4 linked regions of the Homo sapiens genome follow. The protein of the gene in region 3 interacts with the protein of the main gene of each other region in a pairwise test. Each region holds a gene or a part of one and is shown on either strand. Other genes may lie near its edges. The genes, in order: SMCO3, C19orf47, PSMA6 and BRME1.

Region 1 (7,748 bases), on a different chromosome or scaffold from region 3:
TACCATCCACTTTTGTACAGAGTTTGTGCTATTATTTGAATATTTTCTTGTAGTTATCCATGAAATGGGTTCTGTAGTGCCCTGGAGCAGCCCATTGGGAATTGCTAGACAGCAGGTGGAGCTCTTGGTCTCTGGGTCTCCCATTTTTCACCTGGGCCTTTGCTGGACTGGAGCAGCTGTGCTTTCTCTTGCTCTACACATTTGGGCTCTGGGTAGGTAAAATTTTATTTGATGAGAGAGTTCTGTTGCTAAAACAAAGTTTGGAAATTTTTGACTTGTTATTTTATTAAAAAATGACAAAAAACATCTGAAAGTGCTGATGTCATTGGTCAGCACACCTTAAGAAATGAAAATGGAGACAAAGGTTAGCTTGAGATGGATGCTTACTGCACCTAACCTTGTTAATTTTTTTGAATTGAGAAGTCAACATTTAAGATTAAAGGGCATCTAAGATATGGTAGAAATATGCTGATAATTGTGTCTAAAAGTTAAGTTTTATTTAATGACATCATACAGTTGTTTTAGTTTTTCAGAAAAGGAACTACCTTACAAAATGAAAATGTACTGATCATCATATGTTCAAATACAACTCTTCAGGGTACTTTCGTGAATAACAGTAGTGCGTTGACTGTCAAGTGCTGTTGAACTTAGAAATTAATATCAAGGTGATTAGAGAAAGCTTCATGGAGAATGCAATATATGATTTATACTTTGATAGATGGTACATTATGGAGAAATTAAAAGTGAACGGTTTGGTAAAACGATTTTTAAATATATACTTATTACCAGTAACATATACACTTTTTTAAATAGAGGAGGAAAAACACCCATAAACCTACCATTTCACTTTTGATTTTTGTTATTCTTTTTCAAAATTTGTTTATATGCATAAGTATCTTCACAAAGTTATCATAATAGTATAAATAAAATTCATCTTTTATTCACTTAACACTTTCCCCTATTTATAGCTTTAAAAATATTTGGCCGGGCGTGGTGGCTCACGCCTGTAATCCGAGCACTTTGGGAGGCCGAGGCGGGCGGATCACGAGGTCAGGAGATCGAAACCATCCTGGCTAACACGGTGAAACCCCGTCTCTACTAAAAATACAAAAAATTAGCCGGGCGCGGTGGCGGGCGCCTGTAGTCCCAGCTACTTGGGAGGCTGAGGCAGGAGAATGGCATGAGCCTGGGAGGCAGAGCTTGCAGTGAGCCGAGATTGTGCCACTGCACGCCGGCCTGGGTGACAGAGGGAGACTCCGTCTCAAAAAAAAAAAAAATTTTATTGGTTACGTATACTATTCCCTGTCTTTACCCTGGTTCAATAAATCTAAAATTGTTTCACTATCACTAATATTCTAATGAGCATTTTGATACCCACAGATTTTTTTTCCTCCATTATCTGGATTATTTCCTCAGCATAAGTACCTAGAAGAATTACATAATTAGTGGCATAAGTAATGGGAATTAAATTTTTATTACTTTTGATATGTATCGTAAATTGCATTCCAAAAGCTTTTACTGTGCTACCCCAAATAAATTTTTATAGCAGGATACTGGGTATCCTGCTATAAAATTTTTACAATTTTTATTTTAGATTCAGGAGGTACATACACAGGTTTGTTCCCTGACTATACTGTGTGTTGCTGAGGTTTACTGTGAATGATCCTGTCACCCAGATACTGAGCATAGTGCTGGTATATTTCCCAGTCAAAGATGGTCCTGTTTAAATATTGTTGATTTGGGAAGAGTAAGGTTAAATTTCAAAAAGAGAAGTTCTTGCCTATTTGGAAATACATACTGAAAACATTTAAGATGAAATGAAATGGTCTCAGAGATTTGTTCACAAATAATCTGGAAAGAATAGTGGGGTAGGGTTATAGAGGAAAAAAGATTGGCCTTGTTTTGATAATTTTTAAAGCTGAGTTATGGGTACATGGGAGTTTATTATATTATTGTCTCTACTTCTGTGTATGTTTGAACTTTTCTTATAACAAATAAAAAAGAAAGAAAAAGAAAAACGTGACCCTGTCTAAACCTCTGATGTTTAGTCGTTAGTGCTCTCTGAGGTTTTACATTTCTTCTTGCTGTCACTTTTCTTCACTGTCCAAACAGGGTTTTGCCATCATGCACAGTTTCCTTATCTGGGAGTGTGGAAATAGGGTATAGGTAAAATCAGGAGCTTTTCAGAAGAAAATAACAGCTTCTAACTAGTTCTGAGTCTCCTTTAATTCAAATAAAAATCTGTGGCCTTTAATTAAAACAAAAATTGATCATGATGTGATGATATACTTTCTGATATAAATTCATTTAAAAAATGTTTCTGACCAGAAAGAAGAATATTAAAGTCATTCATCAGCATTTATCAAGTGCTCACTGGTGAAGCCTCTACTGTGTCCCTTGAGGCATTTGAAAACGACAATGTTCCTTGCCCTCAAGACGATAACAGCCTGTTTGGAGACACACAGCAAATGCTCAGAGATATTTAGATACAACATAATTTATGAAGGAGTATAAGTACTATACATTAACCAGTATTAGATTCCACATTCATTCTTTCATAGATAGGTACTGAGTGCCTATATTAATATTAATGACATAGAAGGAAATGTTACTATCCATGTAAACTTCACACATTCACACAGGTATCATTTCATCCTTAATCCTTCTTAGAATTGATGTCTTTACTGCTTCTCTTCCACTCTGACTTAATCAGTCCTAGAAATTGTTAATTTTCTTCCTTCTCTGCTGTCTTCAGAGAAGGCACCAGGAAAGGTTCCTTCCAAATCACAAGGAACATGTCATGGGATCCTCTTATAACAAAGCTGTTTTTTTACTTTATTTTATTTATGGTTAGGATTCAAGACTGACGGGCTAATTCAAATTCCTCCTACTACTGAGAAACAGAGTATTATATCAATACTAATAGAAATATCCACGTTGCTTACCTTGCTGTGTTTCTGAGTTCCGTGGTCCTAGCAGTTGTTTAGGAGTATTGTTAAAGTGCTTTTTCATCTGGTTTCATCTGGATATTTCTGATGGAATGTGATGACTTACAGACTTTGCTAGTCTCTGCTGGGTCCCTCTGCCTGTCTGGTTTATAGGCTATTTCTACATGGCTTGGCCCTCAGAATTCCTTCATTTCCTATTAATAAAAACTTAGTATACAGTATTAAGTTATATAAACTGGAAGACTAATAGTGTGTAAAACTTATTTTTAAATTTCTGTTCTTTAATGGACTTTTTATTGTTGAGAAGCGCTATATAACTGAGCTAATTCAATTTAGTAGAGAAGATGGCTCTTTGATTGCAGCTCTCAGATTTTGGGGTTTTATCTTGTCAACTATTCCAGATACTAAGTTTCTTTTAGCTTCTGTTGCATTTGCACCTCTAACTGTTGCTGATTATTTAAATTCTCAAGATATATAAATGCAGTTACTTGCATCCAATTTTTTTTTCTCTTCTTTCCAGCTAGGAGTTCTCCTCTTTGTCATTCTTTCTCTTCCTGTGTTTGTAAATTGTCTTGACAATATAAAAACCTTAAAGTCCAACTTCACTCTTTTCCCTGAAAGCTCAGATCAGTCTTCCCTGCTGCTTCTTCCCAGCTTCAGTCTTCAGACCCGTTAATTCCTCCACAGCAAAGACACCTGAGTGGCAGGGAAATCACTCAGCCCCAGTGTAACTTAGTGAAAGACAGCAGGCTTTACACTCAGACAGTCCTGGTTTTGTGTACTCCAAGTACCACTTACTAGTCATGTAATCCTAAGAAAGTCACTTAGCCTGAGTTTTCCCATTGGTGTAATATGAGTATTAGTTAATAATTTATGGATTAAATGGGATAGTGTTTATAAAGTAATTGGCATAGTGGCTGATATGTGGCAAAATCTTATGAAACGGTAGCTATTCATATATTAACAACAGTATCTCCTGGTGGAGGGGAGAGGAGAATGGGTGGGTACAGGATACAGAATCAAAATGCCAGACAGGCAGACAGGAAACTTTAAAATCTAAAGATGCTGCCCTGTGATTCTAAAGAAGGGCTAAGTGGGGTCACTTTTCTACTTTTGTCCCAGTGGATCATCTTGCCCTTGATGTATCCAGGGCCCCACCACGTACGGATGTGTGGCCAGTGTATCTGAACTAGGTATGGATGTTAAGTAGGATTTTAATAGATGTTTGGGGAGGATGGTGGTATAGAGGAAATAATACAGATAGAGGGAACACTGAGAGCAAAGGAGCTGAACCAAAAATTGTAGAACATTTTCAGGGAACAAAAACCAACCTGCTGGTGATACAGGGTGTAAGTGGGAGCAGTTAAGGGAAGGTAAGTCATGGAAAATTGAAAATAGTTTGTAGATAGCCTTAGATGTCATGCTAGGAAATTGTATTTCATTCTGTAGATAATAATGAACCATTAAAAAATCCTTTTAATTATGGTGTAATATTTGGAGATTTGGATTTCAGGAAGGGTACATTATGTAAACTTGATTAGTAGGTATGGACAATAAAGCATAAGTTACCAACCCCATTGCCTACAGTATGTGGACAAAATATGTCTGTCTTTTACCCTGTCTTAAAACAGTTGCATTTTGTTTCCGAAGAGGCTATTGTTGAAGAGTACCATTTAACCCACTTGTTCCTAAGGTGTTTGTTTCTCTCCTATTTCTACCCTTCTTAACATTTATTGCCTACTCATCCACTCCTTTCTCTCCTACCACATAGCAGCCTAAGTGGAGTTGCCAAAATTAAGGATAAACAGTAACAATGCAAAATAATTATCAGAGAAAAACTAGAAGCAATATTGACTTCATACTGAGCCCCCTAATCAACTTGAACTTCTTTTTTCTGCAATCAGTTTCTCAGGTTGAAAACTTGAACTTCTTAAATCTTTCTTGACTACTAAAGCCAGTATTAACGTCAAGTCAATAGTCAGAACTGAACCTTAGGAAGGAGGCACATTTTCTTAGTGTAGATCTTGGAGTCAGGGTGGTTTTAGGGAATCAGGAAGGCTGATTTGACAAGTTTCACTGCTGGATTGACAGTGGTGGGAAATGAGAGTGAAAGCAATAATATCTCCAAACTTATCTGCATGTAGCTCTCACTTGATCGTCTTTTATTTAGAATGCTTTATTTTCCCTTTTATCCTAAAGCTCATCCCCTTCTTTTCCTAAAATCTCTGCTCAAAAACCATATATTACATGACCCTGAATAAACTGCCCGATTCAATTACGATTGTTTCAACAATTTGCCAGCACTTATGAATGCTGCACTTAAAAAAAAATCAAGCAAACCTAAAAATAATCACCTTTTTGACCCAATAGCCTCCTTTATCTTTCTTCTTCACAGTTAGACTTCCCAGTTTGGTAGTGTACATGCATTGCCTCTACTTCATTTTCTCCATTAATTTTCCAGTATTTATAATCTAGCTTCTGTACATATTCCTGCCTCTTGCAAAATTGCTTTTCTAGCATTGTCAATGACATTGTAATGACTAAACATAAGAAATAATTTACAGTGTTTATCATACTTGCAGCATTTGAAATTGCTGATCAGGTCTTTATATTTTCTCTTTTTTTTTTTTTTTTGAGACAGAGTCTCACTCTGTCACCCAGGCTGGAGTGCAGTGGTGCCATCTTGGCTCACTGCATCCTCCGCCTCCCAGGTTCAAGCAATTCTCCTCCCTCAGCCTCCCGAGTAGCTGGGATTACAGGCGTGTGCCACACCCAGCTAATTTTTGTATTTTTTAGTAGAGACGGGGTTTTGCCATGTTGGGCAGGCTGGTCTCCAACTCCTGGCCTTAAGTGATCTGCCTACCTCAGTCTCCCAAAGTGTTGGGATTACACTAAAATAAAATACTTAAATATAAATCTAAGAATATATGAGCCACCATGCCCGGCCAATTTATCGTTTTTTCTTTAATGGATATGCTTTTGGTGTCATACATATCAAAGGACTAATCAGCTAACCAAAAGTTACAAGATTTTCTTCTGTATTTTCTTCTGTTTTATGGTTTTATATTTTTCATGTCCCATTTTGAGTTAATTTATGTATGTGTATGGTATGACATAAAATCAAGGTTTATGTTTTTGCATATGGGTATCAGGCTTTTCCAGCACCATTCATTGAAAAACCCTAAACTTTCTTTTTTTGTTGTTGTTCTTTCTTTGTTTTTTGTTTTTATTTATTTCTTCCAAAACAAAAGGGAGGATACATGTGCAGAATGTGCAGGTTTGTTACACAGGTATACATGTGCCATGGTGGTTTGCTGCACCTATTGACCCATCCTTTAAGTTCCCTCCCCTCGCCCCCCACTCCTCAACTGGCCCTGGTGTGTGTTGTTCCCTTCTCTGTGTTCATGTGTTCTTATTGTTCAACTCCCACTTATGAGTGAGAACACGTGGTGTTTGGTTTTCTGTTCCTGTGTTAGTTTGCTGAGGATGATGGCTTCTGGCTTCATCCATGTCCCTGCAAAGGACATGATCTCATTCCTTTTTATGGCTGCATGGTATTCCATGGTGTATATGTAACACATTTTCTTTATGCAGTCTATCATTGATGGGCATTTGGGTTGGTTCCATGTCTTTGCTGTTGTAAATAGTGCTGCAATAAACATACATGTGCATGTGTCTTCATAGTAGCATGATTTATAATCCTTTGGGTATATACCCAATAATGGGATTGATGGGTCAAATAGTATTTCTGGTTCTATATCCTTGAGGAATTGCCATACTATCTTCCACAATGATTGAACTAATTTACATTCCCACTAACAGGGTAAAAGCATTCCTATTTCTCCACACCCTTGCAAGCATCTGTTGTTTCCTGACTTTTTAATAATCTCCATTCTGACTGGCATGAGATGGTATCTCACTGTGGTTTTGATTTGCATTTCTCTGATGATCTGTGTTGTTGAGCTTTCTTTTTTATACATTTGTTGGTCGTGTAAAGATCTTCTTTTGAGAACTGTCTGTTCATATCCTTTGCCCATTTTTTGATAGGGTTGTAAATTTGTTTAAGTTCCTTGTAAATTCTAGATATTAGACCTTTATCATGTAGGTAGATTGCAAAAAATTTCTTTCATTCTGTAAGTTGCCTGTTCACTCTGATGATAATTTCTGTTGCTGCGCAGAAGCTCTTTAGTTTAATTAGATTCCATTTGTCAATTTTGGCTTTTGTTGCAATTGCTTTTGGCATTTTTGTCATGAAGTCTTTGCCCATGCCTATGTCCTGAATGGTATTGCCTAGGTTTTCTTCTAGGGTGAAAACACCTAAACTTTCTATGTTAAATTGCCTTTGCATCTTTGTTAAAAATCAGTTGACCGGCCAGGCACAGTGGCTTATGCCTGTAATCCCAGCACTTTGGGAGGCTGAGGCAGGCAGATCATGAGGTCAGGAGATGGAGACCATCCTGGCCAACTTGGTGAAACCTCTTCTCTACTAAAATACAAAAAATTTAGCTGGACATGGTGGTGTGTGCCTGTACTCCCAGCTACTTGGGAGGCTGAGGCAGGGGAATGGCTTGAATCTGGTTGGGGGCGGAGGTTGCAGTGAGCTGAGATTGCGTCACTGCACGCCAGCCTGGTGACAGAGCAAGACTCTGTCTCAAAACAACAACAACAAAAACAATCAATTGACCACATTTGTGGGTCTTTTTCTAGACTTCCTGTTCTGTTAGGTTGGTCTACATATCACCAATACTACACTGTCTCAATTACTGTGGTATATCTTAATATTAGATTGTGTGAGTCCTC
Region 2 (7,670 bases), on a different chromosome or scaffold from region 3:
GGCGAGGGACCCTGCAGCTTGAGGGAGGCGTGAGCCTGCAAAAGTGCAGGGTGTGGAGTGAGACAATGGGGCTTCTTGCATTCATTTTTGATTTTTTTTGAGACAGGGTCTCCTCGCTTTGTTGCCCAGGCTGGAATGCAGTGGTGGGAACACATCTCACTGCAGCCTGGAACTCCTGGGCTCAAGTGATCCTCTCGCCTCAGCCTCCTGAGTAGCTGGAACCACAGGTGTGTGCCACCATGCCCAGCTAGTTTTTTATTTTTTTGTAGAGTTGGGATCTCACCACATTGCCCAGGCTGCTATTGAACTGCTGGGCTCAAGTGATCTGCCTACCTCAACCTCTCAAAGTGCTGGGATTACAGGCATAAGCCACTGTGCCTGGCCTCAAAGCACTTAATATATTTGTTTTATTTTTTTAAATTGGACTTAATATATTTAATTTTCACAACAGTCCTCTTAAAAATCCCACTTAGGGAATTAAGGATCCAGAGAGGTGAAGTCACAGGTATAAAGAGAAATAGGATATGTGGTAAGCCTGGAACTGGACTTTGGTTAAAAAAAAAGAGAGAGGAAATGGAGCAAGGATTTGAACCCAAGCTGCCTCAAGCTTCCAGGGACAGATGCCACATGACAGCTGCCTCTCCTGTTGTTCATCATCTGTAGATCCCCTGCTGCCTGCCCCCCACCGTCTGGGACAGCAGCTGAACCCCGTGGTGGCGCCGGCCTCTCAAAAATTCCGTTAGCATTTCCCTAGCCTGCCCTCAAATTTTATGACTATTTATTTATTTATCTGAGATGGAGTCTTGCTCTGTTGCCCAGGCTGGAGTGAAGTGGTGTGATCTCGGCTCACTGCAACCTCTGCCTCCCGGGTTCAAGCGATTTTCCTGCCTCAGCCTCCTGAGTAGCTGGGATTACAGGCACAAGCCACAACGCCCAGCTAATTTTATATAATTTTGGTAGAGATGAGGTTTCACCATGTTGGTCAGGGTGGTTTCGAACTCCTGACCTCAAGTGATCCGCCCGCCTCAGCCTCCCAAAGTGCTGGGATTATAGGCGTGAACCACCACGCCCGGTCTCGATCTTTGACAGGGATATTTGAAACTTTCTCCCAACATAAAGGATATGTGAGTGCGGACTGAAGAAGATTCTGGCTCTCTTTCCAATAAGGCTGCCTCTCACTAGTCGATCCTGGGTAGAAGTTCTGGAGCTGCCACAGCTCAGGGTGATGGCTTCATGTCACACTGGACCGCATCCCTCCTCGGCTCCACATCCTCCTGTGGCACCCACCTCACTGGGAGTAAAAGCCAGCCTTCTGCATGGCTCACAAGGCCTTCCACGATGTGCCCCATCACCCCTCCAATGTCGTCTCTTGCCCCTCTCCTCTCTCACTGACCTCCTTGCTATTCCTTAAATATTCCAAGCTTGCTCCTACCGCAAGACTTTTGCTTTTGCTGTTCTCTTTGCCCAGCATGCTGTTCCCCCAGAGGGCCATGTCACTCTTTCTTTCTCTCTCTCTTTTTTTGAGACAGAATCTCGCTGTCGCCCAGGCTGGAGTGCAATGGCGCAATCTCAGTTCACTGCAACCTCCGCCTCCCTGGTTCAAGCGATTCTCCTGCCTCAGCCTCCTGAATAGCTGGGATTACAGGTGTCTGCCACTATGCCTGCCTAATTTTTTGTAATTTTAGTAGAGACGAGGTTTCACCATGTTAGTCAGGCTGGTCTCGAACTCCTGACCTCAGGTGATCTGCCAGCCTTGGCCTCCCAAAGTGCTGGGATTATAGGCATGAGCCACTACGCCTGGCCGTTTTTTTGTTTTGTTTTGTTTTTTTGTTTTGAGACAGGGTCTCCGTCTGTTGCCCAGGCTGGAGTGTATTGGCAAAATCATGGCTCACTGCAGCCTCGAACTCCCAGGCTCAAGCGATCCCCCCACCTCTCAGCCTCCCAAGTAGCTGGGACCACAGGCGCACACCACCATACCTGGCTAATTTTTGTAGAGATGGGGTTTCGCTATGTTGCCCAGGCTGATCTCAAACTCCTGAGCTCCAGCGATCCACCTTCCTCAGCCTCCCAAAGTGCTGTGATCACAGGCGTGAGCCACCGTGCCCAGCCCTACTCTCTCTTCTCCTTCAAGTATTTGTTTCAAATGTCACCTTCTCAGAAAGCTTTCCCTGACCACCCTATTTAAAACTATAACCTTGACCCCACATTCCCCATGCCCCTTCTAATACATCCAATAATCTACTTACCTATTTACCCATTGCCTCTTACCCCCACTAGAGTGTAGTACACAGTCCATAAGGCCAGATTTTTTTTTTTTTTTTGAGATGGGGTCTCACTCTGTCACCCAGGCTGGAGTGCAGTGGTGCGATCTCAACTCACTGCAGCCTCCGCCTCCTGGGTTCAAGCAATCCTCTCACCTCAGCCTCCCGAGTTGCTCAGATTTTAGGGGCGCGCCACCATGCCTGGCTAATTTTTGCATTTTTAGTAGAGATGGGGCTTCACCATGTTGTCCAGGCTGGTCTCAAACTCCTGGTCTCAGGTGATCCACCCACTTCACCTCCCAAAGTGCTTGGATTACAGGTGTGAGCCATTGCGCCAGGCCGAGATATTTTTGTCTGTATTGTTCATTGAGGTATCCCCAGTGTCTAGCAGTGTTGGGCACATATATAGTACATGCTTAAGAATTATGTGCAGAATGATTAATTTGTGTTTTCATTCCCATATTGCAGATGCAGTAACTGAGGCGCTGGGAGGTTAAGTTAGTTGCCCAAGATCATGCAGTTTTTTTTTTTTTTTTTTTTTTTGAGACGGAGTCTCGCTCTTGTTGCCCAGGCTACAGTGCAATGGCACGATCTAGGCTCACTGCAACCTCCGCCTCTCAGATTCGAACGATTCTCCTGTCTCAGCCTCCCGAGTAGCTGGGATTACAGGCATGTGCCACCATGCCTGGCTAATTTTGTATTTTTAATAGAGATGGGGTTTCTCCATGTTGGTCAGGCTGGTCTCGAACTTCCGACCTGAGGTGATCCGCCCGCCTCGGCCTCCCAAAGTGCTGGGATTACAGGCGTGAGCCACCGCGCCTGGCCTATTATTATTATTTTTTTTTGAGACGGAGTCTCGCTCTTGTTGCCCAGGCTGGAGTGCAATGGCGCGATCTCGGCTCACTGCAACCTCCACCTCCCCGGTTCAAGCCATTCTCCTGCCTCAGCCTCCCGAGTAGCTGGGATTATAGGCATGCACCACCACGCCCGGCTAATTTTGTATTTTTAGTAGAGACGGGGTTTCTCCATGTTGATCAGGCTGGTCTCGAACTCCCGACATCAGGTGATCCGCCCACCTTGGCCTCCTAAAGTGCTGGGATTACAGGCATGAGCCACCGCACCCGGCCGAGGGTGACATGGTTAATAACAATATTAGCCAAAAACACCATGTCAAGCTGAGCCTACCACAAGAATAAACTCACAGAATCGTCACACTCAGCCCTGATGTGGATGTCCCCGTGTGCATTTTGCAGATGAAGCTGGGATTGGAAAGGTGCCATAAGGCAGTCAAGGTATCCAGAGGTGTAGTGGTGGGGCTGGGATTCTGACACACCCCAGGTAATGGGCTGCAGTACCCCGTATGTTATGTGAGATGTGACACGGGGAAATGACGAAGACACGGAGGGAAGAAAAATAACTGTAAGGCTGGGTGGCTCCTTATGGGGAAAACTGGAAGCATGAGGAGTGGATGGTGACTGGTCAGAGGAACAGTGATGCCAAGGGAGGGACAAAGACACAAGGGGTAATGATGACGTAAGAGTTGCATTAGCGCGATTTAAGAAGAGCGATGGGGACAGTAGCCATGCGAAGGTGACTTGGGGGTATGATGAGGGTTTAAAGAGAAATGAGGATTTTATAAAGGAGAAATGGCAACAAAAGCAGGATGCAGGTAACATATGGCGATGACGAATTTAAAGGGAGCGATTACGACCTATGGTGGCAAAGAGGGCTTACAGGGAACGAAAGCGAGTTAAGGGCGTTGATGACAACAAGAGGAGTTGTGAGGATTTAAAGAGGGTGATGGCGACAGAAGGAGTTGTGAGGATTTAAGTGGGATGAGACAGAAGGAGAGGAATGGTGACATAAAGAGACCGAGGACGACATAAATTATAGCGTGGAAGACAACGCTATAATTATATATATTATATTCCATATATTATATTCCATATAATATATATTATATTCCATGCATTATAGCGTGGAAGACAACACGAGGAGGGTAGCCGAGGCGCCGCGCCCCCAGATCGCACAGTACCTGCACTCCACGTCTCCCACTCCGAGACCCAGCCCCACACGCACCTTCCAGGCTGTATCCCCGCCTGACGGCCCCTCCTAGCCGCGCGCAGGCGCACTACGGCTAGACTGCAGGCCGGCGGGGGCCAGGCATGCGCCTTTCTCATTGGCCGCGCCGCTTGCTAGCTTCGGGCGGAGGGGAGCGCCGGGCCGACGGTGGGCGGTCACGTGACGGTTACGACTGCACTCTCGCTGGTGTCGGTGGGCGGTCACGTGATGGTTATGGCCGCACTCTCGCTGGTGGCGGCCTGTTGGGGTAGAGCGGCCGCGGACGAGTCAGTTCAGCTTCCGGCGGTGAGAGGATGCTTCCGGGGCGGGCAGCCCGGGCCGGGGGAGGAGTGTCTGACAGTTGGCGCCGCCGGGAGGGAGGGCGGGCGGCGCGAGTGGGCGCGGGCCCGGTGGGCCAGGTGAGGCGCGGGCCGGGGGTGGTGGGACTGGGCCGGTTGCGGTAGGGACGGGTGGCGTCCGGGTGTCTGGACTCAGTTCGGGCTCCGTTGTACGGCTTCGGACTTACGATTTGTTTCTTTGAGCCTCAGTTTCCTCCCCTGTGGAATGGGGGTTAGAATCCGACTGTATCACCGGCTTTATAAATGGGAGTGAGAAGTCAGGTCGTGTACGTTGGATGCCTTAGCTCAGCGCCTCCGCATAACGCTCACTTCGTTACTATACTATTATTATTAGTATTGATGTTTGAGCGCTTAGTATGAAAAATTGTTGGGTTTGGAAGCCGTCGAATTTTGGTTCAAGTCCCGCTCCACTGTGCGGCAGTGGGGCCTGTGTCTTCGCTTCCTTGAACCCCGTTTTTTCTCATCTGTACAATGAGAGCAGATAGTCCCAATATCATAGGGTCGTCTTGAGGATTCTGATGAAATCTGTGTGTGTAAAGATTTTAAGCAGAGGGGCTGGCACAGTGAGAGCTCGTGGATTGGGACTATAATGATAATGATTCTGAGAGTCATTGGTGTAGCTGGGAATTCCAGGGAAGCTGGGGGAGAAAGCTCAGAGACAGCAATAGGAAAAACTTAGAATTGGAGCCGGGGAAATCGACATCCTGTCACTTACTATTTGACCAATTTTGCTGAGTCCTGAAGTACTAGTTTTTTTCTTTTTCTTGATAATGACTAGTGCATTTTTTTCCCCAGTAAGTTAATTTGAGAAGGCAAATTTGCATTGCTGTCTTCTTCTTTTTTTTTTCTTTGAGACGGAGTTTCGCTCTTGTTGCCCAGGCTGGAGTGCAATGGTGCAATTTCGTCTCACCGCAACCTCCGCTTCCTGGGTTCAAGGGATTCTCCTGCCTCAACCTTCCGAGTAGCTGGGATTACAGGCATGCGCCACCACGCCCGGCTAATTTTTTTTGTATTTTAGTAGAGACGGGGTTTCTGCATGTTGGTCAGGCTGGTCTCGAACTTCTGACTTCAGGTGATCTGCCCGCCTCTGCCTCCCAAAGTGCTGGGATTACAGGTGTGAGCCACCGTGCCCGGCGCATTGCTGTCTTCAATGGAAAACTAGCATTGCTGGCCATGAGAGGAAGGAAAAGTTCAGGTAAAATACAATGGAAACTGAACAGCCCATTACATTGTACACTGAAATGGAAAGATAATTGAAAAGGAATACTACGTATTCCCTTTGAATAGGGATACTGTTCAGAACCTGTACTGTGTGATTCCCTGTTGTCAGATCCCATGGACCCCCATTAAGTTGTCCTTATACTTGTTCCCAGCTCACACTTTGTATAAAACTAGCATTAAGTCAGTGACTGTCCCACTGTTTCCCTAGCTTACTGAAGATTTGTTTTATTTGATGCACACTTAACATCGCACTTAACCACCTGCCGTGCATCTTTGTTCTAAGGACTCTGTTTATTAACTCGTTTAATCCTTGTAACACCTTTAAGAATGGGTCCTTGGCTGGGCGTGGTGGCTCACGCCTGTAATCCTAGCACTTTGGGAGGCCGAGACGGGCGGATCACGAGGTCAGGAGATAGAGACCATCCTGGCTAACACGGTGAAACCCCGTCTCTACTAAAACTACAGAAAATTAGCCGGGCATGGTGGTGGGGGCCTGTAATCCCAGCTACTTGGGAGGCTGAGGCAGGATAATTGCTTGAACCTGGGAGGCAGAGGTTGCAGTGAGACGAGATCACGCCACTGCACTCCAGCCTGGGCGACAGAGTGGGACTTCATCTCAAAAAAAAAAAAGGGTCCTCTTTTTTTTTTTTTAAGATGGTGTTTTTTTATTTTTATTATTTATTTATTTATTTATTTATTTATTTATTTATTTATTTATTTGAGACAAGGTCTCGCTCTGTTGCCCAGGCTGGAGTGCAGTGGTGCGATCTTGGATCACTGCAACCTCTGCCTCCCGGGCTTAAGCAATTCTCCTGCCTCAGCCTCCTGAGTAGCTAGGATTACAGGTGCCCACCACCACGCCTGGCTAATTTTTGTATTTTTAGTAGAGAGGGGTTTCACTATGTTGGCCAGGCTGGTCTTGAATTCCTGACCTCAGGTTATCCACCTGCCTCAGCCTCCCAAGGTGCTGGCCAAGAATTGGTAATCTTACTTTTTTTTTTTTTTTTGAGATGGAGTCTCACTCTGTTGCCCAGGCTGGAGTGTAGTGGTACAGTTTCGGCTCACTGCAACCTCTGCCTCCTGGGTTCAAGTGATTCTCCTGCCTCAGCCTCCCGAGTAGCTGGGATTACAGGTGCCTGCCACCATGCCCAGCTAATTTTTTGTATTTTTAGTAGAGGCGGAGTTTCGCCATGTTGGCCAGGCTGGTCTCAAACTCCTGACCTTGTGATCCACTGCCTTGGCCTCCCAAAGCGTTGGGATTACAGGCATGAGCCACTGCGCCCAGCCACCTTTCCTTTTTTTTTTTTTTTTTTTGAGACTGAGTCTTGCTCTGTTGCCCAGGCTGGAGTGAAGTGGCGTAATCTTGGCTCACTGCAACCTCTCCCCCCCCCGCCCCGGGTTGAAGCGATTCTCCCACCTTAGCCTACTGAGTAGCTTGGATTACAGGCATACACCACCATGCCTGGCTAATTTTTGTATTTTTAGTAGAGATGGGGTTTCACCATATTGGCCAGGCTGGTCTCGAACTCCTGACCTCAGGTGATCCACCCGCCTCAGCCTCCCAAAGTGCTGTGATTACAGGCGTGAGCCACCACGCCCAGTTTTTTTTTTTTTTTTTTTTTTTTTAACAGTGACAGGGTCTCGCTATATTGCCCAGGCTGGCCTCAAAATCCTGGGCTCCAGAGATCCTCCTGCTTCGGCCTCCCAAAGTGCTGGGACTACAGGTGTGAGTTACTGTACCCGGCCTTACCATTCTTATTGTGCAGTT
Region 3 (7,023 bases):
GTGTGTTGTTTAAACACCACTAAATTTGTAGTGATTCTGGCTGTGTGTGATGGCTCATGCTTGTAATCCCACTGCTTTGGGAGGCTGAATGGGGAGGATCGCTTGAGCCCAGAAGTTTAAGACCAGCCTGGACAACATGGCCAGAAATCAAGAAACAGTAACAGACAACAAGAGAAAAACCAGCTAAGTCAAAAACTGGTTCTTTGAGCCAATAAAATCATTAACCCTCTGGTAGGTTGGTAAATGCATCCCCAAAATATATCTATGTCCTAGTCCCTGGAACCTGTGAATGTTACCTTATATGGCAAAAGCAGGCAGAGGGTCTTTAGAGATGTGATTTTTTCCTAGAAAAAAAAAAATTCTAGTAACACTTGATCTTCAATCCCACATAGCAACTGGCCACAAAGAAAAAAAAAATCACCTAAGCTGAGCAGGTGTTTTGCAGTTTTCCACAGGTCCCACCATTTCCTGTTATCTTTCACTCAGCCTGTTTTACTCACTGGCATTACTTATCTGGTCTGTGTAAGCATTTGTGTCTGTCATCCCTGAACTAAATAAATGAATACATGCTTATTGCTTAAATAATGCAAAAGGTAAAAGCCACAAAAGAGTATCTTCCCTACCACATAAACTTTTGTCTCACAAAATAAAAAACATTTTACATATAAAAAATGCTTCTCAACAGAGAATGCACCTGTGAATTTGCCAGGATTCATTAAGGGGGCCCTCGTTCTTTATATAGACCAGTGCTGTCCAACAGAAATTTCTGTGATGCTGGCAATGTTCTATATTTGCAATGTCCAATATGATAGTCACTAGTCATATGTGGCTATTGAGCACATAAAATGTGGCTAGTGTAACTGAGCAACTGGATTTTAAAGTTTTTTTTTTTTTGAGATGGAGTCTCACTCTGTCACTCAGGCTGGTGTGCAGTGGAGCAATCTTGGCTCGCCGCAACCTCTGCCTCCCAGGTTCAAGCGATTCTCCTGCCTCAGCTTCCTGAGTAGCTGGGATTACAGGCACACACCACCACACCCAGCTAGTTTTTCTGTATTTTTAGTAGAGACGGGGTTTTACCATGTTGGCCAGGCTGGTCTCAAACTCCTGACCTCAAGTGATCCACCCGCCTCGGCCTCCCAAAGTGCTGGGATTATAGGTGTGAACCACTGCGCTCAGCCAAATTTAAAGTTCTTTGTTAAGAATATCATTCCTACTCTTCCTCTCCTACTTCTCTGAACTTCCCTTCTCAATCTTCTTCACTGCTTTCATCTCTTCAGCCAGCTCCTGAAATACTGGTATTTCCCAGAATTCTATTATTTTCTCCATCCCTGGATGATTTTACCCTAAACCAGAGATTTAGCTATAACCTAGATAATCACTACTAATCTGTCATCTCTAGCTCTGGACTTATAATTACAAATGTCTATTTCTTCAAATACCTATGCCTATTAGCCACAGACATGTCTAAAAATAAACTCTTCCTCTTTATAAACCTGCTTTTCTTACAGTCCTTATTTCATAATTGTATTACTAACCACTCAATTTTTCAAGCTACAAACCTGGGTTATCACTCTTGACTCTAACCTCCTGCCCTTTCCCAAGAAATGTCCATTCTTATACCTAGGATTTGCTTTAACGTACTCTAGAAGAGCGGGGAAAGTGCGTGGGAAAGGGAGAAAACAAGACTGACAAAATATTGACATCAGATGAAGCTGTGTGATGGGTACATGAAGGTCACTGTACTAGTCTATCTACATTTGTCTAAAGTATTCTATAATAAAAATGTGAAAAATAAGCTCAAGAGACCCCTCCACCCTTTCTCTCTTATTACCTTAATTCACTCATTAGGGTTTATATGAATTACTGATACTGAGCAAACCTCTTCTAATTGTTCTTCCTGCCACCAGTCCCCTTTTTATTTTCTTTTCTGAGACAAGGTCTCACTCTGTTGTCTAGGCTGGAGTGCAGTGGTGTGATCGTAGCTCACTGCAACCTGAAACTTTCGGCTCAAGCAATCCTCCTACCTCAGCCTCCAGAGTATGTGGGACAACAGGTGTGTACTACCACACCTGGCTAATTTCATTTTATATATTCTGCAGAGACAAGGTCTTGTTATTTTGTCCAGGCTAGTTTCGAACTCCTGGCCTCAAGCAATCCTCCTGCCTTAGCCTCCCAAAGTGTTGGAATTCCAGGTGTGAACCATCAGTCCCTTTCTAATCCCATTTCTACACTCAACTCTCCTATTATTTTACTTAATTACCTCGCCATTCTTAAAGACCCCTGCTAGCTCTGTTCAAAACACATGGAAAAAAGTCCAAACTCTAGCATGGTACTCAAGCCCCTTCAAAATATTGCTATAATTTACTCTTTCAGTTGTTACTGTCTATACTGCATTCACACTGACTGATCTATGCACTGGTCCCCCAAATTTCCTTATTTAATCTTCATCTGGGCCAATTCATCTCTGAGAAGCCTTTCCCGGCTCTCCTAGGCAGTTAGTCACTTCCTGTAATACCTTTTTTATACTATTTAGTACTCATCAAGCTGCACTGTAATTTCAGTAAAGGCTTGTATAAATGAATCCCCATTTTAACACTACCACCATGAAATGTTTTATAATAATTTCCAGAAAAATGGAAACTGCCAGAGCAAAGAATTTAGACAACTCAACACCTAAAGAGTATCTTTTAAAGAAACACTGGCAGGGTAAACAGTAGTATCATGGTTTAGAGCAGATACGGACAACCTATGGTATATGAAGGCCAATTAAGAAAAAAGAGGCTGGGCATGGTGGCTCACGCCTGTAATCCCAGCACTTTGGGAGGCCGAGGCGGGTGGATCACTTGAGGTCAGGAGTTCAAGACCAGCCTAACCAACATAGTGAAACACTGCCTCTATTAAAAATACAAAAATTAGCCAGGTGTGGTGGCAGGCGCCTGTAATCCCAGCTATTGGGGTGCTGAGGCAGGAGAATCGCTTGAACCCAGGAGACAGAGGTCGCAGCAAGCCGAGATTGCACCACTACACTCCAGTCTGGGTGACAGGGTGAGACTCCATCTCAAAAAAAAAAAAAGAGGCTGGGCACTGCGGCGGCTCACACCTATAATCCCAGCACTTTGGGAATGGAGGCAGGAGGATCAGTTGAGCCCAGGAGTTCAAGACCAGCCTGGGAAACACCAAGATGTCATCTCTACTAAAAATAAAAAGTTATCTGAGCATGGTGGTGTATACCTGTACTCCCAGCTACTTGAGAAGCTGAGGCAGGAGAATTTCTTGAGTGCAAGAGTTTGAGGCTACAGTGAGCTATGATTACACCACTGCACTCCAGCCTGGGCGACAGAGTGAGACCCTGTCTCAAAAAATAAATAGCTGGACGCAGTGACTCACGCCTATAATACCAGTACTTCGGGAGGCCGAGGCAGGTGGATCACTTGAGGTCAGGAGTTTGAGACCAGCCTGGCCAACATGGTGAAACTCTGTCTGTACTAAAAATGCAAAAATTAGCCAGGTATGGTGGTGCGCGCCTGTAATCCCAGCTACTCAGGAGACTGAGGCAGGATAATTGAGTTAACCTGGGAGGCGGAAGTTATAGTGATCTGAGATTGCACCACTGTACTCCAGCCTGGGCAACCGAGTGAAACTCTGTCTCCAAAATAATAATAATAATAATAAAGAAATAAAGATAAAAATAATAGTTTATGGGCAGCATTTTAAAATGATATTTATTTTTTAAAGTCAGGATTCAAACGTTGGCAACAGTACTTAAACACTACATGATCAAAGACTTTGGTTTGGGCTAAAATTTTGGAAACTTACAGAACTCTAAAACTGAGTAAACTATTCTTGAATGTCCAAGATTATGCAAGAAAATAATAAGTCATAGTTCCTTTTCCTTTTTTTTTTCTTTTTTTGAGATGGAGTCTCACTTTGTTGCCCAGGCTAGAGTGCAGCAGTGCGATCTCAGCTCACTACAACCTCCACCTCCCGGGCTCAAGCAATTCTCCTGTCTCAGCCTCCCTAGTAGCTGGGTCTACAGGGGCACGCCACCACACCCAGCTAATTTTTGTATTTTTAGTACAGATAGGGTTTCACCATGTGGGCCAGGCTGGTCTTGAACACCTAAACTTAGGTTATCCACCTGCCTCGGCCTCCCAAAGTGCTGGGATTACAGGTGTGAGCCACTGTGTCCGGCCCCATTTTCCAGTTTTTAAATGGGAAAAATTATAATGCATTAAACTCGACTCCAAGCCCCCAATTTTCTAAATCTTAAATACACAGTAAAATACCTAAGTATTAGATTGAACCACACGAAACTGCCATTTTTACAGGTTAAAAATTAGTCAAAGACCAGCAGTTTCATGGTTGAACCCAACAACAAACCATTAGGTTAGGAAGTAAATTGCTTCCTTGCTCAAACAAAATGGTATCAACAGTTATTTTGTATGTAGAAATGTCATTTCCATAGTAATATCTTATTTGCTTTGTTTCCTTCCCTACCATTTTCCCCAACACTTCCTCAATTTCTCTGGGATTCATTTGTATACTAGAAAAATACAGTGGCTAAACATAAAAGGCACGGTGGCAAAATGTTCAGGACAGGCACACGATGCAAGACAATGGCTCACACTGTACACAGCTCAGGCTGTGAGAACAACAGCAGAGATATATATTCCCTTTATGTCACTCATCAGGTGTTGCAAAGCATTTACAGGTGATTCTGAGGTCCTACCAATTATTAGAAATGTAACTCAAGACTTTTTCCACCCATAATTTTGTTTAGAATGCTGTAGAGTTTCGGGATGTAAATATGATTTTCTCCCATATAAACGTGGGCTTGAAAAATAAAAATGAATTGAGAGATACATATTCTATGAGTTATTAAAAAACAGGCCTCACGGTGGCTCACGCCTGTAATCCCAGCACTTTGGGAGGCCGAGGCAGGCGGATCACGAGGTCAGGAGACTGAGACCATCCTGGCTAACACGGTGAAACCCCGTCTCTACTAAAAATATAAAAAATTAGCTGGGCTCGGAGGCAGGCGCCTACAGTCCCAGCTACTCAGGAGGCTGAGGCAGGAGAACGGCGTGAACCCAGGAGGCGGAGTTTGCAGTGAGCAGAGATTGCAACACTGCACTCCAGCCTGGGTGACAGAGCGAGACTCAATCCCCCCCAAAAAAATAAAAATAAAAATAAAACGGGATGTTCTACTGGGACAAAGAAAGTATATTCATATTCAATTTCAATGCTGTGTGGCAAAAAAAAAAAAAAAAAAAAAAAAAAACTTTGTTAAGATTTTTTTGAAGCTACTTATTTGCTTTTCCCTAAACTTGTAGGCTACATAATTGAGATGTGTGGTTCACTATAAAGTGCCTCCTAACCTTTTACTCTTTAGAACAGTGATTCCTCAAGGGGGTGGGGTCATTAGAAATCTTGGCACTGGGGGAGGGGGAAAGAGAGGGGGAATATGAGGTTTGAAAATACAGCAGTATTTGATCCCATCACTTTTTCTGTGTAGTTATATATGTATTTATGTAGATATGCACATGTATGTATGTGTATGCATGCACACACATGCATTGAATTTCAAATCAGATTCAAAGAGGGCATGAGAAGCCTGGGTTGAGAAATACTGCTTTGAAATAAGAATATTTTTTAAATTGCAAAAGAGGCAAATGGTAAGTACTTCTCAGTCATTTGTGAAATTTCTGACTCCATTTACATCAGCCATTTGTTTCTTCTTGACAGTATCCCCTACAGAAAATACTAATTGAAGGCGGGGCATGGTGGCTCACGCTTGTAATCCCAGAACTTTGGGAGGCCGAGGTGGGCAGATCATGAGGTCAGGAGTTCAAGACCAACCTGGCCAACATAGTGAAACCCTGTTTCTACAAAAAATACAAAAACTAGCCGGGCATGGTGGCAGGCGCCTGTAATCCCAGCTACTCGGGAGGCTGAGGCAGGAGAATCACTTGAACCCAGAAGGCAGAGGTTGCAGTGAGCTGAGATCACGCCATTGCACTCTAGCCTGGGCGACCAAGTGAGACTGTCTCAAAAACAAACAAACAAACAAACAAACAAACACCCAGAAAACATTGAGTGCTTACTATATATACCGGGCAATGTTTTAAATGCTTTACATTTATTAACTAATTAAATCCTTAAAGCCCTATAAGGTAGGTGGTTATTATCTTTATTTTACAGATAAAAAGTTCTTAGAGTTGGTATGCAGTAAGGACTTGAACTCAGGAATTCTGGCTTCAATACACAATGACACTTCTACATTTTATTTTCAGTATGTCTCCACCAGTCCATTTCTTTCTAGTTCCCTATCAGCACGCTCCCTTCTTTGTAGCAACCAGGCAGTGCTCACATACACCTGTCAAGCAAATCCAAATGACCACTCCTCTTCTCCTTTGCCAGACCTATCCAGCAAAGGATCAGCAAACAGAAGAGAAGGGCCTACAAGTAGCCAGGCTGAATTTGGCCAACTAGGGCCTCAGTCCCATTCCCCCTACAATGCACCTCCTCCCTCTAGTAACTTGGGCAATTCCTGAAAATAGATTACAAAGCTAGGTGTTCTACAATTTTTAACAAATGAATACATGCACACACATACAACCTGCATATGTACATTAAGAGAAATATTTCAGGCCGAGCGCAATGGCTCATGCCTGTAATCCCAGCACTTTGGGAGGCCGAGGTGGGTGGATCACCTGAAGTCAGGAGTTCAAGACCAGCCAGACCAACATGGTGAAACCCCATCTCTATTAAAACTGCAAAATTAGCCAGGAGTGGTGGCACATGTCTGTAATCCCAGCTACTTGGGAGGCTGAGGCAGGAGAATCGCTTGAACCTGGGAGGTGGAGGTTTCAGTGAGCTGAGATCACGGCCATTGCACTCCAGCCTGGGCAACAAGAGCGCAACTCTGTCTCAAAGGGAAAAAAAAAAAAAAGAAAAAGTCTTTCTCTCCACTCCCTGGGAGCAAACACTGCCAATAATATGTTATTAATAATTATAAAGTAT
Region 4 (7,023 bases), on a different chromosome or scaffold from region 3:
ACCATGCCCGGCTAATTTTTGTATTTTCAGTAGAGACGGGGTTTTGCCATGTTGGCCAGGCTGGTCTTGAACTCCTGACCTTAGGTGATCCACCCGCCTCGGCCTCCCAAAGTGCTGGGATTATAGGCGTGAGCCACTGCGCTATATATACAAAGATGTCAATAAGCATCTTTAGCCTCTTAAATGCCAGAAGAAGACACATCGCAATTGCTTTCAGTGATGGGGAAGTTAGTGCAGAAATGCAAGGGGCCAGGACGTGGCCAAAGCATCACCTCTTCAGCACCCGGTGGCTGTGAGTCCCAGTTTTCCCAGGATGGCTATTTTGCAGATGTCTCAGCACATTAGAATGGTACATAATTTAGTCTTGTCTGCCCTTGGTGGTGTGCATTTATCCAGTCATGGATAATTTATTTATTGAGCACCAACAGTGTACAAGATGCTCTTACAGGCACTTGGGACCCCGCAGAGAGTGAAATGGATTCGGCCCCTTCTCGCGTGCAGCCTGGTTGTAGTGGGGGAGACCTGAGTTGTCAGCCATGAGCAGTGGCTGTATCCCCCACCCCTTCATCTTCCTCTGTCTCTAAAACAGGAGAGGGACTCTGTCCTCCAAAACCCCTAAAGAACCCAAGGCTAGGAGACTTCTATGGGGACCCCCAGAGTTCCATGTTGGGCTGTTTACATCACCCTGAGGAGCCAGAGGGCAAATTGGGACCTGTTCCCTCTACACAGCAGCACGGGGAGGAACCAGGAAAGGCCGTCTCCAGGTAGGTGGCTCTGAACATTCCGGCAGGTCTCCCCACTGACAGTCCACATAGCACAGCAGCTCAGCAGACAGCAATGCTTTGGGAAAGAGACCCACAACCTATCTAGTGCTGTGACCCACTCCCTCCCAGAGCTCAGGGCCCTCGGATCTCGCTTCTCCTAGCTTTCCTCGCTGGTAAGAAGGGTTGATGTTTTAGCCGGGCATGGTGGCTAATGCCTGTAATCCCAACACTTTGGGAGGCCGAGGGGGGAAGATCACTTGAGGTCACGAGTTTGAGACAAGACTGGCCAACACTGCAAAACCCCGTCTCTACTAAAAATACAAAAATTAGCTGGGTGTGGTGGCGCACCTGTAATCCCAGATACTCAGGAGGCTAAGGCAGGAGAATCGACTGAACCCAGGAGGCAGAGGTTGCAGTAAGCTGAGATCATGCCACTACGCTCCAGCCTGGGCAACAGCGAGACTCCATCTAAAAAAAGAAAAAAAAGTTTTAACTGTGGGCAAAGATAACATTGCATTTTTCAGGGTTACAGAACTCATATTCTGTCTGCTGGTCAAACCCATCCTTCTTCCACATTCCTCCTCTTCCTTAATCAAGAAGGGAACAAAGGAATTGTTGTTATGTGAGCTAACGACCAATAAAAAAAGAAAAGCAATCAGGGCTGAGTGCAGTGGCTCATGCCTATAATCCCAGCACACTGGGAGGCTGAGGCAAGAGGATCGCTTGAGCCCAGGAGTTCAAGAGGAGCCTGTGTAACATAACAAGGATGACCCCATATCTACAAGAAATAAAATAATTAGCCAAAACAAAACGATATACATATCCTTATTTATTTATTTATTTATTTGAGACAGGGTCTTTCTCTGTCACCCAGGCTGGAGTGCAGTGGCACAATCTCGGCTCACTGCAACCTCCACCTCCCGGGTTCAAGCGATTCTCCTGCCTCAGCCTCCTGAGTAGCTGGGATGAAAGGCGCCCGCCACCACACCCAACTAATTTTTGTATTTTTAGTAGAGACGGGGTTTCACCATGTTGGCCAGGCTGGTCTCGAACTCCTGACTTAAGGTGATCCGCCCGCCTCGGCCTCCCAAAGTGCTGGGATTACAGGCGTGAGCCACCACGCCTGGCCCTTATTTATTTAAATATAACCCTAAGTTTCACTAGTTTTTAAAGACACTATGTTTCTTGCATCCACAATTTCCTTTCCCTAGAATGTGCCGTGTCAGGGCTGGAGTGTCCGTCCAAATGAGAATATCCCTATTCCCAGTTCAGAAGGCAATTCCTGGGATTATAAATGTAACAAAGTCACCTGTTAAGGCAGTGTATTCTCCAGGTGGGACTCTGCACCCTCCTTGACAGTTAAATGTTCTCAGGTCACTGCTTCTCCATCCCCATCCCACTCTTTCAAAGCAGGTTTTCCAGGGCCTTCCATCTAGCAGACATTTTTTTTTTTTTGAGATAGGGTCTTGCTCTGTCACCCAGGCTGGAGTGCAGTGGCGTGATCATAGCTCATTGCAGCCTGAACTCCCCTGGCTCAGATGATCGTGACATTTCAGCCTCTCAAGTAGCTGGGGCCACAGGCACACATCACCACGTCCAGCTAATTTTTAAATTTTTTGTAGAAAAGGGGTCTCACTATGTTGCTCAGGCTGGTCTCAAACTCCTGGGCATCCACCCACCTCAGCTTCCCACAGTGCTGGGATTAAAGGGATGAGCCACCACGCCCAGCCTAGGAGACTCTTAGCACTGGTTTCCTGTTGGATTTTGTTTTGCGTTTGTCTCGATAGGTGAGTGACAACCTAGGAGGATTTCAGATCCCCCTCGTTTGTTTGTTTTTGACACAGAACCTTGTTCTCTCACCTAGGCTGGAATGCAGTAGCACAATCTTGGCTCACTGCAAACACCATCTCCTGAGTTCAAGCCATTCTGCCTCAGCCTCCCAAGTAGCTGGGATTACAGGCGTGCGCCACCACATCCAGCTAATTTTTGTATTTTTAGTAGAGATACGGTTTCACCATGTTCCCCAGGTTGGTCTCGAACTCCTGGCCTCGGTGATCTGCCCGCCTCAGCCGCCCAAAGTGCTGCAATTACAGGTGTGAGCCACCGCACCCGGGCAGATCTCCTTCAGTTTTATCTTTTCCTACATAGCTCCCCTGATGAGGAAACAGGATCTCCCTGCCGGCTCCTCCGTCAACCAGAAAAGGAGCCAGCTCCCCTTCCTCCTTCCCAGGTGAGCTCGTCCTGTGGCCTCGTGGATATAGAAGCACCACTGCCTCCCTTAAAGTTCCGGCTCTGTGTCTCCCTTCTTTGTCACCAATTGCTCACTCATGGTCTACAGGGGCTGGAGGGAATGTGCCCAGAGGGCAAGGGTGGAGTTCTCTCAAGGCTACAAGAAAGGAGCAGGTTTGGGGTTGCTTTTTTCCTAAGACCTCATTCCTCTCTTATCTTTATTGCTGCTTTGTTCTTGTATCCGGTTTACAGAACTCATTCGGGAGGTTTGTTCCCCAGTTTGCAAAATCCAGGAAGACAGTGACAAGAAAAGAAGAGATGAAGGATGAGGACCGTGGGAGTGGGGCCTTTAGCCTGGTAAGGCTCTAAAATCAGCCAGGCTGAGCCCAGCGCAGGTGCAGCCTCCTGGCCCAGCCTCGGCAGCCCCATTTAACCCTGGAGTTCTTTGGCAATGGTGAGGCCTGCACCTCTCCACCCACCGTTTTCAGTACATTGCGCTATGGATGTGTGTTGACTATGCAACAATTCTTTATTTTATTTTTTTTCTTTTTTTTGAGACAGAGTTTCACTCTTGTCACCCAGGCTGGAGTGCGATGGTGCCATCTTGGCACACTGCAACCTCTGCCCCACTGGGTTCAAGCAATTCTCCCGCCTCAGCCTCCCAAGTAGCTGGGATAACAGACGCCTGCCCACCGCGCCCAGCTAATTTTTGTATTTTTAGTAGAGACGGGGTTTTACCATGTTGGCCAGCCTGGTCTTGAACTCCTGACCTCAGGTGATCTGCCCGCCTCAGCCACCCAAAGTGCTGGGATTACAGGCATGAGCCACTGCGCACGGCCTTAGCACAATTTTTAAAAAAACACAAAATGGTACAGAGTGAATTTCCGGTGTTCTCTGTTTTAGCTTCACCGAGTGGTAACACCATGCATAACTATAGTCCATCACCAAAACTAGGCAATTGGCCAGGTGCAGTGGCTCATGCCTATGATCCCAACACTTTGGGAGACTTCCCTTGACCAGCCTGGGCAACATGGCAAGACTCTGTCTCTACAATAATTTTTTTTTTTTTTTGAGATGGAGTCTTGCTTATCGCCCAGGTTGGAGTGCAGTGGTGTGATCTCGGCTCACTGCAGCCTCCACCTCCTGGGTTCAAGTGATTTTCCTGCCTCAGCCTCCCCAGTAGCTGGGACTACAGGTGCACACCACCACACCTGGCTTATTTTTGTATTTTTATTAGAATAGGGGTTTCACCCTGTTGGCCAGGCTGGTCTCGAACTCCCAACTTCAAATGATCCGCCTGCCTCGGCCTCTCAAAGTGCTGGGATTACAGGCATGAGCCACTGCGTCCAGGCTACAATAATTGTTTTAAAACTTGGCCAGGTGCAGTGGCTCCCACCTGTAATCCCAGCACTTTGGGAGGCCGAGGCAGGAGGATCACTTGAGCCCAGGCATTCAAGACCAGCCTGGGCAACATGGCACAACGCCATCTCTACCAAAAAAACCACAAAATTTAGCCAGTTGTGGTGTGTACCTGTAGTCCCAGCTACTTAGGAGGCTGAGGTGGGAGGGTCGTCTGAATCTAGGAAGGTCAAAACTACAGTGAGCCGTGATCACACCACTGCACTCCAGCCTGGACGAAAGAGTGAGACCCTGTCTCAAAATTATGAAAAATAAATAATAAAAATAATAATAGCCGCTGGGCGCAGTGGCTCATGCCTTTAATCCCAGCACTTTGGGAGGCCGAGATGGGCAGATCACCTGAGGTCTGTAGTTTGAGACCAGCCTGGTCAACATGGAGAAACTCTGTCTCTACTAAGTATACAAAATTAGCCGGGCATGGTGGCGCGAGCCTGTAATCCCAGCTACTCGGGAGGCTGAGGCAGGAGAATTGCGTGAACCCGGGAGGTGGGGGTTGCAGTGAGCCAAGATCGCACCATTGCACTCCAGCCTGGGCAACAAGAGTGAAACTCTGTCTAATAATAATAATAATAATAATAATAATAATAAACAGGAAATTGACATTGGTGTGGTCTGAATGCCACCTTGATTTTCATATCCCTGATCTGATTGAGTACCTGGTGCTGGTGGAGAGAAGAGCTTGGTGGAAGGAGAGGTTTCTGTGCTTCCAGATCCCCCTCCAGTCGCCGGCCCTGGTACTGATGCCTATTTCCATGCATGATGGCCGGTGCCAATATCTGAGTCTTTGAACAGGGTGGTGACAACTATTAGATTGGTGCAAAAGTAAGTGCAGTTTTTGCCACTAATTTTTTTGTGTGTATGAGACAGAGTCTTACTCTGTCGTCCAGGCTGGAGTGCAGTCCTATCTCGGCTCACTGCAACCTCCGCCTCCCGGGTTCAAACAATTCTCCTGCCTCAGCCTCCTGAGTAGTTGGGACTACAGTCAACTGCCACCATGCCTGGCTAATTTTTGTATTTGTTGAGTAGAGATGGGGTTTCACCATTTTGGCCAGGCTGATCTTGAACTCCTGACCTCAAGTGATCCGCCCACCTCGGCCTCCCAAAGTGCTGGGATTACAGGCATGAGCCATCACGCCTGGCCAATTTTTGCCATTAAAAGTAATGACAAAACCCGCAATTACTTTTACACCAACCTAATAGAAAACTCTTCGGAGAACTTGGTTATCAAAGGCCCCGGGGCTGAGTCTTTTTCTGTCCACAGGAAACAATCGCAGAGTCCAGCGCCCAGAGTCCAGGATGCCAGCTGCTAGTGGAGACCCTGGGGGTCCCCCTCCAGGAGGCCACGGAGCTGGGGGACCCAACGCAGGCAGACAGTGCCCGCCCTGAGCAGAGCAGCCAGAGCCCTGTGCAGGCGGTGCCCGGCAGTGGGGATTCTCAGCCTGATGACCCTCCAGACAGGGGGACGGGGTTGTCCGCCTCACAGAGGGCCAGCCAAGACCACCTGTCAGAACAAGGGGCCGATGACAGCAAGCCTGAGACAGACAGGGTTCCAGGTGACGGTGGCCAAAAGGAACACCTACCAAGCATTGATTCTGAAGGGGAGAAGCCAGACAGAGGAGCCCCCCAGGAGGGAGGGGCCCAAAGGACAGCAGGGGCTGGCCTGCCTGGAGGGCCCCAGGAGGAGGGAGACGGTGTCCCCTGTACCCCAGCATCAGCTCCTACCTCAGGCCCTGCTCCAGGACTGGGCCCTGCCTCTTGGTGCCTGGAACCCGGGTCTGTGGCCCAGGGCTCCCCTGACCCCCAGCAGACCCCCAGCAGGATGGGTAGGGAAGGGGAAGGGACTCATAGCAGCCTGGGATGCTCCTCCCTCGGGATGGTTGTCATCGCAGACCTGAGCACAGACCCCACTGAGCTGGAAGAGAGGGCTCTGGAGGTGGCTGGGCCCGATGGGCAGGCCAGTGCCATATCACCTGCCTCTCCCAGGAGGAAGGCCGCTGATGGAGGCCACAGGAGGGCCTTGCCAGGCTGCACCTCGCTCACTGGGGAAACCACAGGAGAAAGTGGGGAGGCAGGGCAGGATGGCAAGCCCCCCGGCGATGTCCTAGTGGGCCCTACAGCCTCCCTGGCTCTGGCACCTGGGAGCGGAGAGTCCATGATGGGTGCTGGAGATTCCGGTCATGCATCCCCGGACACAGGTCCATGTGTCAATCAGAAGCAGGAGCCAGGTCCTGCTCAAGAGGAAGCCGAGTTAGGTGGCCAGAACCTCGAACGAGACCTCGAGGGGTTCCGTGTGTCCCCGCAAGCCTCTGTTGTGCTGGAACACAGAGAAATAGCAGACGACCCTCTCCAGGAGCCCGGGGCTCAGCAGGGCATTCCAGACACCACCTCAGAGCTGGCAGGGCAGCGAGACCACCTGCCTCATTCTGCAGACCAGGGCACCTGGGCAGACTCTTTAGCTGTGGAACTCGACTTCCTGCTGGACAGCCAGATACAGGATGCCCTGGACGCCTCTGACTTCGAAGCCCCACCTGAGCAGGTGAGAGCTGCCCTGAGTGACAGACATACCTGCCCAGGGCAGGCACCCAACCTCCACAAGCCCCCTCCTCACTCG

The links.
Region 1: the proteins of PSMA6 (region 3) and SMCO3 interact in binary tests that used the Homo sapiens proteins (3 or more experiments, as listed by UniProt).
Region 2: the proteins of PSMA6 (region 3) and C19orf47 interact in binary tests that used the Homo sapiens proteins (3 or more experiments, as listed by UniProt).
Region 4: the proteins of PSMA6 (region 3) and BRME1 interact in binary tests that used the Homo sapiens proteins (3 or more experiments, as listed by UniProt).

Annotation. Positions count from the first base shown.
Region 1 is NC_000012.12:14,811,181-14,818,928, forward strand, and holds the start of SMCO3 (single-pass membrane and coiled-coil domain-containing protein 3), read right to left. Parts: upstream 3,003-7,748; 5' UTR 2,946-3,002; intron 213-2,945; exon of another isoform or gene 1-212.
Region 2 is NC_000019.10:40,345,395-40,353,064, reverse strand, and holds the start of C19orf47 (uncharacterized protein C19orf47), read left to right. Parts: upstream 1-4,667; 5' UTR 4,668-4,741; intron 4,742-4,775; exon of another isoform or gene 4,776-5,876; intron 5,877-7,670.
Region 3 is NC_000014.9:35,295,378-35,302,400, reverse strand, and holds part of PSMA6 (proteasome subunit alpha type-6), read right to left. Parts: intron 1-7,023. UniProt on the Homo sapiens protein: Component of the 20S core proteasome complex involved in the proteolytic degradation of most intracellular proteins. This complex plays numerous essential roles within the cell by associating with different regulatory particles.
Region 4 is NC_000019.10:13,889,113-13,896,135, reverse strand, and holds part of BRME1 (break repair meiotic recombinase recruitment factor 1), read left to right. Parts: intron 1-589; coding exon 590-764; intron 765-2,912; coding exon 2,913-2,994; intron 2,995-3,245; coding exon 3,246-3,350; coding exon of another isoform or gene 3,351-3,362; exon of another isoform or gene 3,363-5,017; intron 5,018-5,673; coding exon 5,674-6,948; intron 6,949-7,023. UniProt on the Homo sapiens protein: Meiotic recombination factor component of recombination bridges involved in meiotic double-strand break repair.